Homo sapiens: one gene and its partner. The protein of the gene in region 2 purifies or fractionates together with the protein of the main gene of each other region. This does not show direct contact. Each region holds a gene or a part of one and is shown on either strand. Other genes may lie near its edges.

Region 1 (4,204 bases), on a different chromosome or scaffold from region 2:
GTCAGAGATCCACAGTTTCACAATCTCTTAGCCAAAATTATGAAATCCAAAAAGCCCCCAACACTGAAATATTTTTCTTAGAATTGATGCTAAAAGCATTGGACGGTCAAATTGGCCCTAAGCACGTGAGAAGCTGTTTGTGGTTTTCCCTTGACCTCTGCAGTTTGAGTGTTCAGAGGCCTTGCTGCAGACACAGGGCAGTGGATGCCCGTGAAGCCCTCTCCCCAGCCTGCTGGGGTCTCCCTAGCAAGTGGTCATATGACTTTTCTGAAATCCCCAAACACATCTGGCCCAAGGGTTTTGATGGAAGGGCCGTGGACCCAGGTGACTGTGGAGAGAACGGGTACTGAGGCTGCAGCAGCCCGCTAAGGCCCCAAGAGCATGGGTGAAGATGCAGTGCTGCCCAGGGGCCTCAGCTTTGTGTCTGGACTGTGCCCCAGAAGTTGCCCAGACTCTTTGGCAAGGGGCTTTGTGAGACCCTCGTGGTGTGCATTCGCCTCCTGTCTTACCTGATCCTGCAGGAGGATGTGCAGTTTCCTAGCATTTGCATGGGGTTTGTCTCAAGCATGGGATGGATGGAGAGCGGGAGAGGGAGGTACAGGGGAGAGAGAGATGGGAGACATGGAGGGAGAGAGGCGGGAGACATGGAGGGAGAGAGGCAGGCAGACGCAGACCCTCAGCCTCCCCCTCAGTTCCCCTCAGAAAACTGCTTTTCCTCAGAACTTGGCTCACAATCCCTTTCTCTGTGGAACCCACCCTTGGGTTGTATCCTTCCTCTTCCGTCTTTTTTTTTTTGAGATGGTCTTGGCCATTGCCCAGGCTGGAGTGCAGTGGTGCGATCACAGCTCACTGCAGCCTAGACTCCTGTGCTCAAGCGAGGTTCCCGCTTCAGCCTCCCAAGTAGCTGAGACTACAGGTGTGTGTCACCACGCTGGCTAATTTTTAAATGTTTTGTAGAGACGAGGTCTCACTATGTTGCCCAGGCTGGTCTCGAACTCCTGGGCTCAGCCTCCCACAGTGCTGGGATTACAGGTGTGGGCCACTGTGCCCGATCCTGTCCTCTTTCTGAGCCTCTGGTATACCTTTATTAGGTTGCTGATGTTAACCTGTGTGTCTGTCCCCGAGTGAGGTGGTGCGGTCACATTCTGTGCATCTGGTGCCCAGTGTCAGTCTGTCATGTGGAGGCCAGTGGCTGGGCTGACAGGAGGCCTGGGTCCCTTGGCTCTGTGATCATCCTGTCTGGACTGTGGCAGCCTCCTCATGGGTCACCATGTGCTGAATGCTGGAGGACATTGTGTGCCACCTCTTAGGAGCCGCCCTCACCAGCCTCCTCTCTCTTTTTCGGCCCGTGTCCCCTTCTTTTTTTGTTTGTGTTTGAGACGGAGTCTCACTCTGTCACCCATCTCACCAGTGAGCTGGTACAATCTCAGCTCACTGCAACCTCTGCCTCCCAGGCTCAAACCATTCTCCTGCCTCAGCCTCCAAGTAGCTGGGATTATAGGTGCCTGCCACCTCACCGGGCTAATTTTTGTATTTTTAGTAGAGACAGGACTTTGCCATGTTGGCCAGTCTGGTCTCGAACCTCCTGACCTCAAGTGATCTGCCCACCTCGGCCTCCCAAAGTGCTGGGATTACAGGCGTGAGCCACCACGCCCGGCCCCCTGGCCCCTGGCCCCTTCTGTGTGGGCCCCATCTGAGAGCCATTTCCCAAATCTGAGAGCCATTTCCCTAGTCGGCTGTGAAATCGGATGGTGTTTGTAGTCAATCAGTTGTTTTTTTACTGTTGTGGAGTTTACCAGGGACTCTCCAATCTCTCTCTCGTTTCCTCTCACACCTCCTCAAGGCAGCAGCACGGACTTCCCCTTGCAGGTGGGGCCGAGGCTAGGCTGCACGGCTGACGGGGGGTTTGGGGGCCCTGAGATGAAGCGAGAGCGCTGACCAAAGCATTGGCAAGTTCTCCTGTACTTTACTGTTGGGCTTTTGGTAGCATTCTCTGCAAAATCATTTCTAAATGTGGACTTAATTTGGAGAAATTTGAGACTAAGTGCTTTATTTTTTAACTTGGTCACAAAATTTGGTCTTTTTCTTGTTATAAATTGGTGGCATTAAATGCTTTGTACTTAGTTCTAATGGAGAATCGGTGCAATCTCTCCTTTTGACTCATCTGTGGCCCTACATGATGGTCACCCATGTCATTATCCCCAGGGTGGACAATGTCCCAGAAGGAAGCCTGCCAGTGCACGGTGAACAGGCGCTGCCCAAGGACCAGCAAATCACTGCCTTGGGGAGAGAGGAACCTGTGGCAATAGAGAGCCCCGGACAGGATCTTCTGGGAGAAAGCAGGTCTGAACCAGTGGATGTGAAGCCATTTGCTTCCTGCGAAGATTCTGAAGCTCCAGTCCCAGCTGAGGATGGGGGCAGTGATGCTGGCATGTGTGGCCTGTGTCAGAAGGCCCAGCTAGAGCGGATGGGAGTCAGTGGTCCCAGCGGTTCAGACCTTTGGGCTGGGGCTGCCGTGGCCAAGCCCCAGGCCAAGGGTCAGCTGGCGGGGGGCAGCCTCCTGATGCACTGCCCTTGCTATGGGAGTGAATGGGGCTTGTGGTGGCGAAGCCAGGACTTGGCCCCCAGCCCCTCTGGGATGGCAGGCCTCTCGTTTGGGACACCTACTCTAGATGAGCCGTGGCTGGGAGTGGAAAACGACCGAGAAGAGCTGCAGACCTGCTTGATTAAGGAGCAGCTGTCCCAGTTGAGCCTTGCAGGAGCCCTGGATGTCCCCCACGCCGAACTCGTTCCGACAGAGTGCCAGGCTGTCACCGCTCCTGTGTCGTCCTGCGATCTGGGAGGCAGAGACCTGTGCGGTGGCTGCACGGGCAGCTCCTCAGCCTGCTATGCCTTGGCCACGGACCTCCCTGGGGGCCTGGAAGCAGTGGAGGCCCAGGAGGTTGATGTGAATTCGTTTTCCTGGAACCTCAAGGAACTCTTTTTCAGTGACCAGACAGACCAAACGTCATCAAATTGTTCCTGTGCTACGTCTGAACTCAGAGAGACACCCTCTTCCTTGGCAGTGGGCTCCGATCCAGATGTAGGCAGTCTCCAGGAACAGGGGTCGTGTGTCCTGGATGACAGGGAGCTGTTACTACTGACCGGCACCTGTGTTGACCTTGGCCAAGGCCGACGGTTCCGGGAGAGCTGTGTGGGACATGATCCAACAGAACCGCTTGAGGTTTGTTTGGTGTCCTCTGAGCATTATGCAGCAAGCGACAGAGAAAGCCCAGGACACGTTCCTTCCACGTTGGATGCTGGCCCTGAGGACACGTGCCCATCAGCAGAGGAGCCAAGGCTGAACGTCCAGGTCACCTCCACGCCCGTGATCGTGATGCGCGGGGCTGCTGGCCTGCAGCGGGAGATCCAGGAGGGTGCCTACTCCGGGAGCTGCTACCATCGAGATGGCTTACGGCTGAGTATGTCCCGGGCCCCATAGGAAGAAGTGTGGTGCTCCCAGAGCACAGTGCAGTGGGGGTGCAGGGCCTTCCTTGTTCTGGGGTCTGATGGGGTTTCACCCTGGAATAGTGTTAGCAGAAATCATGTTTTCAAGGAGAATGCATATCATCCACCCCTAGAAAATTAAGATTACGAATGTGTGTGCCTGGGGAGGGTGGCGCCCAAGGTCCCAGGCCACCTGCCCCATGCCCGTCAGTTCCAGCTGTGCCCCCTGACTCAGGCCATACACTTAGAGAGCCGCTCCTCCCAGCAGCCTGGGGAGATCCCGTCGGGAGCAGGAGAAGCGTGGGGGTGTCACGCTAGAGTCTGTCTCTCCACCTCCCACCAGCCCCCACCTCAGTGGTCACACAGACAGGCCGAGAGGGATGTGAGCGTGGTGAGATGCTCACGTGTTCTTCTTCCGTGCTTTTGGTGTTTAGGCTGCCCTGATCTCTGAAAAACCTGCCCTTCTGTGAGGGTCATGTGATCGGGCCCCTCTGCTTGCCCCTTTGAGATTGATTCTGTTTTACTTTCTTTTTTATTTTCATTTCTTTTTTTTTTTTTTTTCTTTTTTTTTGAGACAGAGTCTCTCTCTGTTGCCCAGGCTGGAGTGCAGTAGCGCGATCTCAGCTTACTGCAAGCTCCGCCTCCCGGGTTCATGCCATTCTCCTGCCTCAGCCTCCCTAGTAGCTGGGACTACAGGCACCCACCAGCACGCCCGGCT
Region 2 (6,173 bases):
CCCTTATTTCTATGAGAATATGCAAAGCATTTGGTCAAGGAGAGTTGGTTTTCTCAATGTTGAAGCCAGGCATGTTTTCACAACTAAAAGCGAGGACCCGTCTTAACCAAGGCCTCAATATTGATGGGATTTGGTCTCTGACACATGCACAGGTGACCTGTGTCTGTAAGTGCACCTACAGCTGCCTGGCAGCTCTAGGACATGGCGATTCTCTCAGGTACTTGGCACAGAAAGTCACTGGCCTTCTTTGGAGGACGCATCATTTATAGAAACACTTCTTTATTGGATCCTGGGTCTCGGGTGGAAAACCAGGTCCCACATCAGGACTTTCTCTGTGAGGCTCCCAGGTTCTGGGGCTCCAGCTGCTCTCTGAGAGGAAGGTGTGGAGACAGAGAACATAGCCCAGCCCCACCCAGCCCCTCTTGCATTGTCCCTGCTCTGTAGGGAGTTAGAAAACTGGGGGCATCAGCAGCAGCAGGCCTGTGTCACTGTGGGTGGGGCCAGGGAGGGGCCGAGGGGCATCCTGGGTGAGTCTCTCCCACGGCTCCTGTTTGACTTGCCCATGGCCACTGTCACAAATGACCCCTAATTTAGTGGCTTAAAATAACACACATTTATTCTCTCCCAGGTATGGAAGTCAGAAGTCCAAAATGAGGCCTGAGCTGCTAAGATCAGGGTGCCAGCAGGGCCGGGCTCCTTCCGGGGGCTCTGAGACAAATCCATTTCCAGAACTTTTCCAGCTTCTAGAGGACGCCCCCAGCTCCTGGCCCTTTCTTCTAACTACAAAGCCAGAGCTCAGCATCTTCAGATCTCTCTCCTGATCTTCTCTCCCCCCACTTTCTGTCTTCCTCTCCCTGGACTCCCCTCTCCTTCTCTCTCCCTCCATCCCCACATCTCCTCCTCTCACTGTGACCCTCCTCCTGCCTTCCTCTTTCCCTTATAAAGACTCCACCCTGGAGCAATGCGGAAAACCCAGAATTGTCTCTCACCTCAGGCTCCTTATCACCATCATGTCTGCAAAGTCCCAGTGGCCACACAATACAGCACATAGACAGATCCTGGATTGGGACACTGCAGTCTCTGGGAAGCCTAATTCAGCCACCTCCATCGGAGGCAAATCATGGTGCCACAGGCTCTAGCCTCCAGCCCGTGGCATGTAGCTCCTTCTCAGGGCACTGGGCATCCGGGCAGACAAAGCCAGAAAAGCCTAGAACAGGATGCAGAGTGGTAACATTAGAGCGCACCTTGTCATGCTGGCCACTGGGTGGCAGGGGCCGGTTTCAGCGAAGGTACTCACACCCACACTTCAAAGTCCAGCCTCTCCTTTTAGCGCAAGCTGGCCAGGAACTGCGGCCTGGAGTGGGGACTGCAGACACCACAGTGCCCGGGCTTCCCACTCCACAGGAACAGCTGCAGCCACCCTGGCTGCACTCCTCGGGAAGCAGGAGCAGCAGAAACTCAACCCCAGCCAGCCCTCCCCACCCAAGTGCCGGTTCCCGTTCCTGATGCCTCCTCCACCCACAGGGCCCTGTAGCCTCCTCGTGTCCACTACTGCGTGCCCCGGGGTCCCAGGCGGTCTCTGCAACACAGAGCAATAGGAGGCGGGTCCAGGAAGCACCACGGGGCTGGGGCCCCTGCCGCGCTCAGGAAATGCTGTGCGCCCGCCGCACTTGAGCAAGAACAGGAGGAGGTGGCCGGGAAGAGGAGGACCGCTCCTCTCTTGCAGACCACCGCTGTCACTGACACCTCCACCGCCCGCCACCGGCAGTGCAGTCCCAGATGGCGCCCCTAACTCATCCGTGCCTAGTACATGCAGCACCCAATGGCGCTGGCAGCCTGCCCCCTGCCACGGGCAGCGCAGCCCGGGATAACTCCCCAAACCCGCTCTGTGCTGTGGGCAGTGCAGCCACGGATACCACCCTCAACCAGCCCCTCGCCACAGGAAATGACTCCCGGGATAGCGCCCCAAATCAGCCCCCAGCCTCGGGCAGTGACGCCTGGAGTAGGTCACCCAACCCAACTCCTGCGCGGGCAGTGCAGCACCAGATAGCGCCCCTAAAACGCCTCCCGCCACCGGCGGTGTAGCCCAGGATAGCGCCGCCAACCCGGTACTCGCCGCGGCAGTGTAGCGATAGGGCACCCAATCTGCCACCCACCGCCGGCAGTGCAACCCCAGATAGCGCACCGAACTCACTCCCTGCTGGGCAGTGCAACCCCACATAGCATCCAACCCGCCTCCCCACCCAGCCACTGGCAGTCCGCCCCCGATAATGTCCCATACACGCTCCTGGCTGTGGGCAGTGCAGCCCATGGGTAGCGCCCCCAACCAGCCCCCAGCCATGGGGAGTGATGCCTCGGATAACACACCCAACAAGTTCCCCACCATGGCACTGATGTCCCAGGTAGCGCCCCCAATCCTTGCCCCTCAGCGACCAGTGCAGCCATGGATAGCGCCCTCAACAAGCCCCTCCACTGACCCCCGCCGCTGTGGGAAATGACGCCCGGGATAACGCACCCAACCCTCCCCCGCCATGAGCAATGCAACACGCACTACTGCTCCTTACACGCCCCCCACTACATGCGGTGTAGCCAACGATGGCGCCCCCATCTCCCCCTCGCCTCGGGCAGTGTAGCTCCCGATAGTGCATCCAACCCATTCCCTCTGCCCCTCTCCTCCCACCGAGTCAACCACCGCCGGCAGTCCAACCCCAAATAGCGCACCCAATCCACTCCCTGCCAGGCAGTGAAGCCCCCCGATAGCACCCAACCCGCACCCCCACCCCCGCCACTGGCAGTCCGCCCCGATAACGCCCCAACACGCTCCTGGCTGTAGGCAGTGTAGCCCATAGATAGAGCCCCCAACCAGCCCCCAGCCAAGGGCAGTGACGCCTCGGATATCACAGCCAACAAGTTCCCTGCCATGCGCACTGATGTCCCAGATAGCGCCCCCAACCCGTACCCCAGCGCGACCAGTGCAGCCACGGATAGCGCCCCCAGCAAGCCACCCCGCGGCTGCGGGAAATGACGTCCGGTAAAGCACCCAACCTTCCCGTGCTGTAGGCAGTGCAGCACCCAATACTGCCCCTAACACGCCTCCCACCACCGGGTTGTAGCCCACGATGGCGCCCTCAATCCGCCCCCGCTCCCACCTCGGGCAGTGCAGCTCCAGATCGTGCATCCAACCTGTCCCCCTCCCCGCCCCCTGCCGCAGGCAGTGAGCCCTGGATAGCTCATCCACCCCGCCACCTTTCTACATTCTGGCTGCGGTCTAGTCTCCCTCACCGCCACCAACGGCAGCGAGCCGAGCCATGCTGCTGCAGGCTTTCAAGCCTCCAGCGTGGGACAGGTGACTCCTCCTCTAACCTGGGCATGGAGCAGATGGGCTGGCAGACGCAGAAGTGCCTGGAATGGCAAGAACCCCTCCCCCCACAGACCGAGGTTATGCAAGTAAGGTTTCTGGACTACATGTTCAGATTGGATGAGAGAAAAACCTCTAGGTCTACTCTGATTGTGCTTTATTTTCACGTTCTGACTGGATGACAGCAAGTCTTAGGATAACCAATCAGAACAAGATAACAAAGCCCGATCAGAGTAGGCCTAGAGGTTTCTCTCATCCGATCAGACTATGTAGTCGAGAAACTTCATTTGCATTAAACTCAGTATATAAAGGATGCCAAGAGGGGTGGCTTGCCCTTCCAGGCTCATCTGCGTCGGCCTGCGTAGCTGCTCTGTGCCCGGCTTAGAGGAGAAGGAGGAGGAGCCACTTGCCGCGCATGCCAGAGGCTAGAGTCATCTACCGCGCATGCTGGAGGCTGGAGCCTACAGTGGCTCACCTCGCTGCTGCGGTTGGTGGCCGCGAGGGTGACTACAGCGCAGCCAGAATGGTGAAAAGGTGGCAGAATAGGTTCGTTATCCCAGGCCGTACTGCCTGTGGCGTGGGGGGCGGGTTGGGGGCCCTATCCAGGGCGTCACTGCCCGTGTTGGGGGGCTGCTTGAGTGTGGTACCTCGGGCGTCACTGCCCGCTGAGGGGAGTGGGGTGGGGGCGCTATCCGGGGGCGCTATCCAGCCTATGGCTGGAGATGGGTTGGGGCGCTATCCGAAGCTGTAATTCCTGCGGCAGTGGGGAGTTTTGGGGGCACTATCTGGGGATGCACTGCCCGCGGCCGGGGGGCGGGGGTGAGTTAGTAGAACTATCAGGTGCTGCAATGCCCTGATGCCCTTGTTGGGGACAGGTTGTGGGGGGCTGGTGGGTGCAACACTGCTGGTGGCGAGGGTGGGTGCTGCTATCCGGTGCTACTCTGCCTGTGGGGGACGGGGGCGGGCGTGATATCCAGGGCATCATTGCCTGCATCTGGGAGCTGGTTGGGGACACTATCCATGGCTGCACTGCCCACAGTGGGGAGCGGGTTGGGGGCACTATTTGGGGCTGCAATGCTGGTGGTGGGGGACGGGTTAGGGTCACTATAGGGTGCTACACTGCTGGCAGTGGGGAGGGGGTTGTTGAGGGCGCTCTCTGGGGGCTACACTGAGACAGGTAGCGGGGGGTTGTTGGGATTGGTACCGGGGCTGGACTGCCCATGGAGAGGGGGTGGGGGCGTTGGTTGGGGGCGCTATTGAGGGCCGGGTACACTGCCTGCGGTGGAGGGGTGGGTTGGGTGCTATCAGGGGTCTGTACTGCCTAGCAGGGAGCGGGTGGGTGTGCTATCTGGGGCTGCACTGGCTGCAGCAGGGGCAGGTTGGGTGCACTATAGGGGGCTACACTGCCCTTGGCAGGGGGTGGTTTAGGTGAGCTGTCTGTGGCCGCACTGCCCGAGGTGGGGAGTAAGTTTGGGTGCTATCTGTGGCTGCACTGCCTGGAGGCAGGAAGTGGGTTGAGGGTGCTATCCTGGGCTGCTTCTCCTGGTGGGGAGCAGGTAGGGGCACTATCCAGGGTTGCACTGCCCGGGGTAGGGGGCGATTTGGGTGCCATATCGGGGCATCACTGCCCACGGCAGGGGTCTGGTTGGGGTCGCTACCCATGGCTACACTGTCTACAGCCACTGCCTACGGCAGGGAGCGGGTTGGGGGCGCTATCCCGGGCTGCGCTGCCCAAGGCAGGGGGTGGGTTGCGGGTGCCATTGGTGCTGCAGTGTCCGAGGCAGGGGCGGGTTGGGGTTGCCATCTGGTGCTACACTGCCAGCTGTGGGGGAGGGTCGGGGGCGCTATCGGGGGCTGCACCGTCCCCCTGGTGGTGGGCAGCGGAGGTGTCAGTGACAGCGGTGGTCAGAGGAGGTGAGAGGGACTCCAGTCTCTAGAGGGCCATCTCCTTCTGCTCCTGGCCAGCACACAGCATTTCTGCGGGGATCCTGAGCACGGCCCGGCCCCTAGACCTGCTGTGGTTCCCAGGCGCGCGCCCTCTCACCATGTGTTGCTGAGACCGTCTGGGACCCCTGGGCACACAGTAGCGGACATCATGGAGTGACAGGGCCCTGTGGGTGGAGGTGTCAGGAAGAGGTACCGGCACTTGGGTGGGGAGGGCTGGCTGGGGTTGAGTTTCTGCTGCTTCTGCTTCCTGAGGAGCGCAGCCAGGGGTGGGCCCAGCGATTCGTGCCGAGTGGGAAGCCCGGACGCTGTACTGTGGTGTCTCCAGTCCCCACCCCAGGCCCCAGTTCCTGGTGAACTTGGGCCAAAAAGGGAGGCTGGGCTTTGGAGGGTAGGTGTGAGTGCCTTTGCTAAAACTGGCCCCTGCCACCTAGTGGCCAGCATGACAAGGTGAGACTCTAATGCTACCACTCTCTGCATCCTGTTCTAGGCTTATCTGACTTTGCCTGCCCAGTTGCTCCGTGCCAGGAGGAGGAGCCACTTATTCCATGCTGGAGGCTGGAGCTGGGGGCACCGCAGCTCACCTTGCTGTGGTTGGTGGTGGCGATGGAGACTACAGAGCACCAGAGCGGTAGGAGAGCAGCAATGGAGACTGCAGAGTGCCAGAGCAGTAGGAGGGCGGCTGGCTGCTGCCTGGGCAAGGGCAGGCCTGCTGTGGTATCCAGGTGGTAGGAGCCTTGTAGGGTGGACCAGTGGACTGAGGGCAACAGGAACAGTGGTTGTATTGGCATCAGTGCTAGTGGTGGCAGCAGCAGCAAGTCTGGAGGTTGGGAAGGCGGGTAGGAGCGCTCCAGGGCTGACCCGCCCGGCT

Evidence for each region.
Region 1: the proteins of RFPL2 (region 2) and PASK purify together in Homo sapiens (affinity purification with mass spectrometry, with the first as the bait; one large-scale study listed by BioGRID). This does not show direct contact.

The regions. Positions count from the first base shown.
Region 1 is NC_000002.12:241,125,453-241,129,656, reverse strand, and holds part of PASK (PAS domain-containing serine/threonine-protein kinase), read left to right. Parts: intron 1-2,205; coding exon 2,206-3,461; intron 3,462-4,204. UniProt on the Homo sapiens protein: Serine/threonine-protein kinase involved in energy homeostasis and protein translation. Phosphorylates EEF1A1, GYS1, PDX1 and RPS6.
Region 2 is NC_000022.11:32,201,344-32,207,516, forward strand, and holds the start of RFPL2 (ret finger protein-like 2), read right to left. Parts: upstream 3,731-6,173; 5' UTR 3,364-3,730; exon of another isoform or gene 2,960-3,363; intron 2,135-2,959; exon of another isoform or gene 1,298-2,134; intron 1,208-1,297; 5' UTR 1,109-1,207; coding exon 990-1,108; intron 1-989.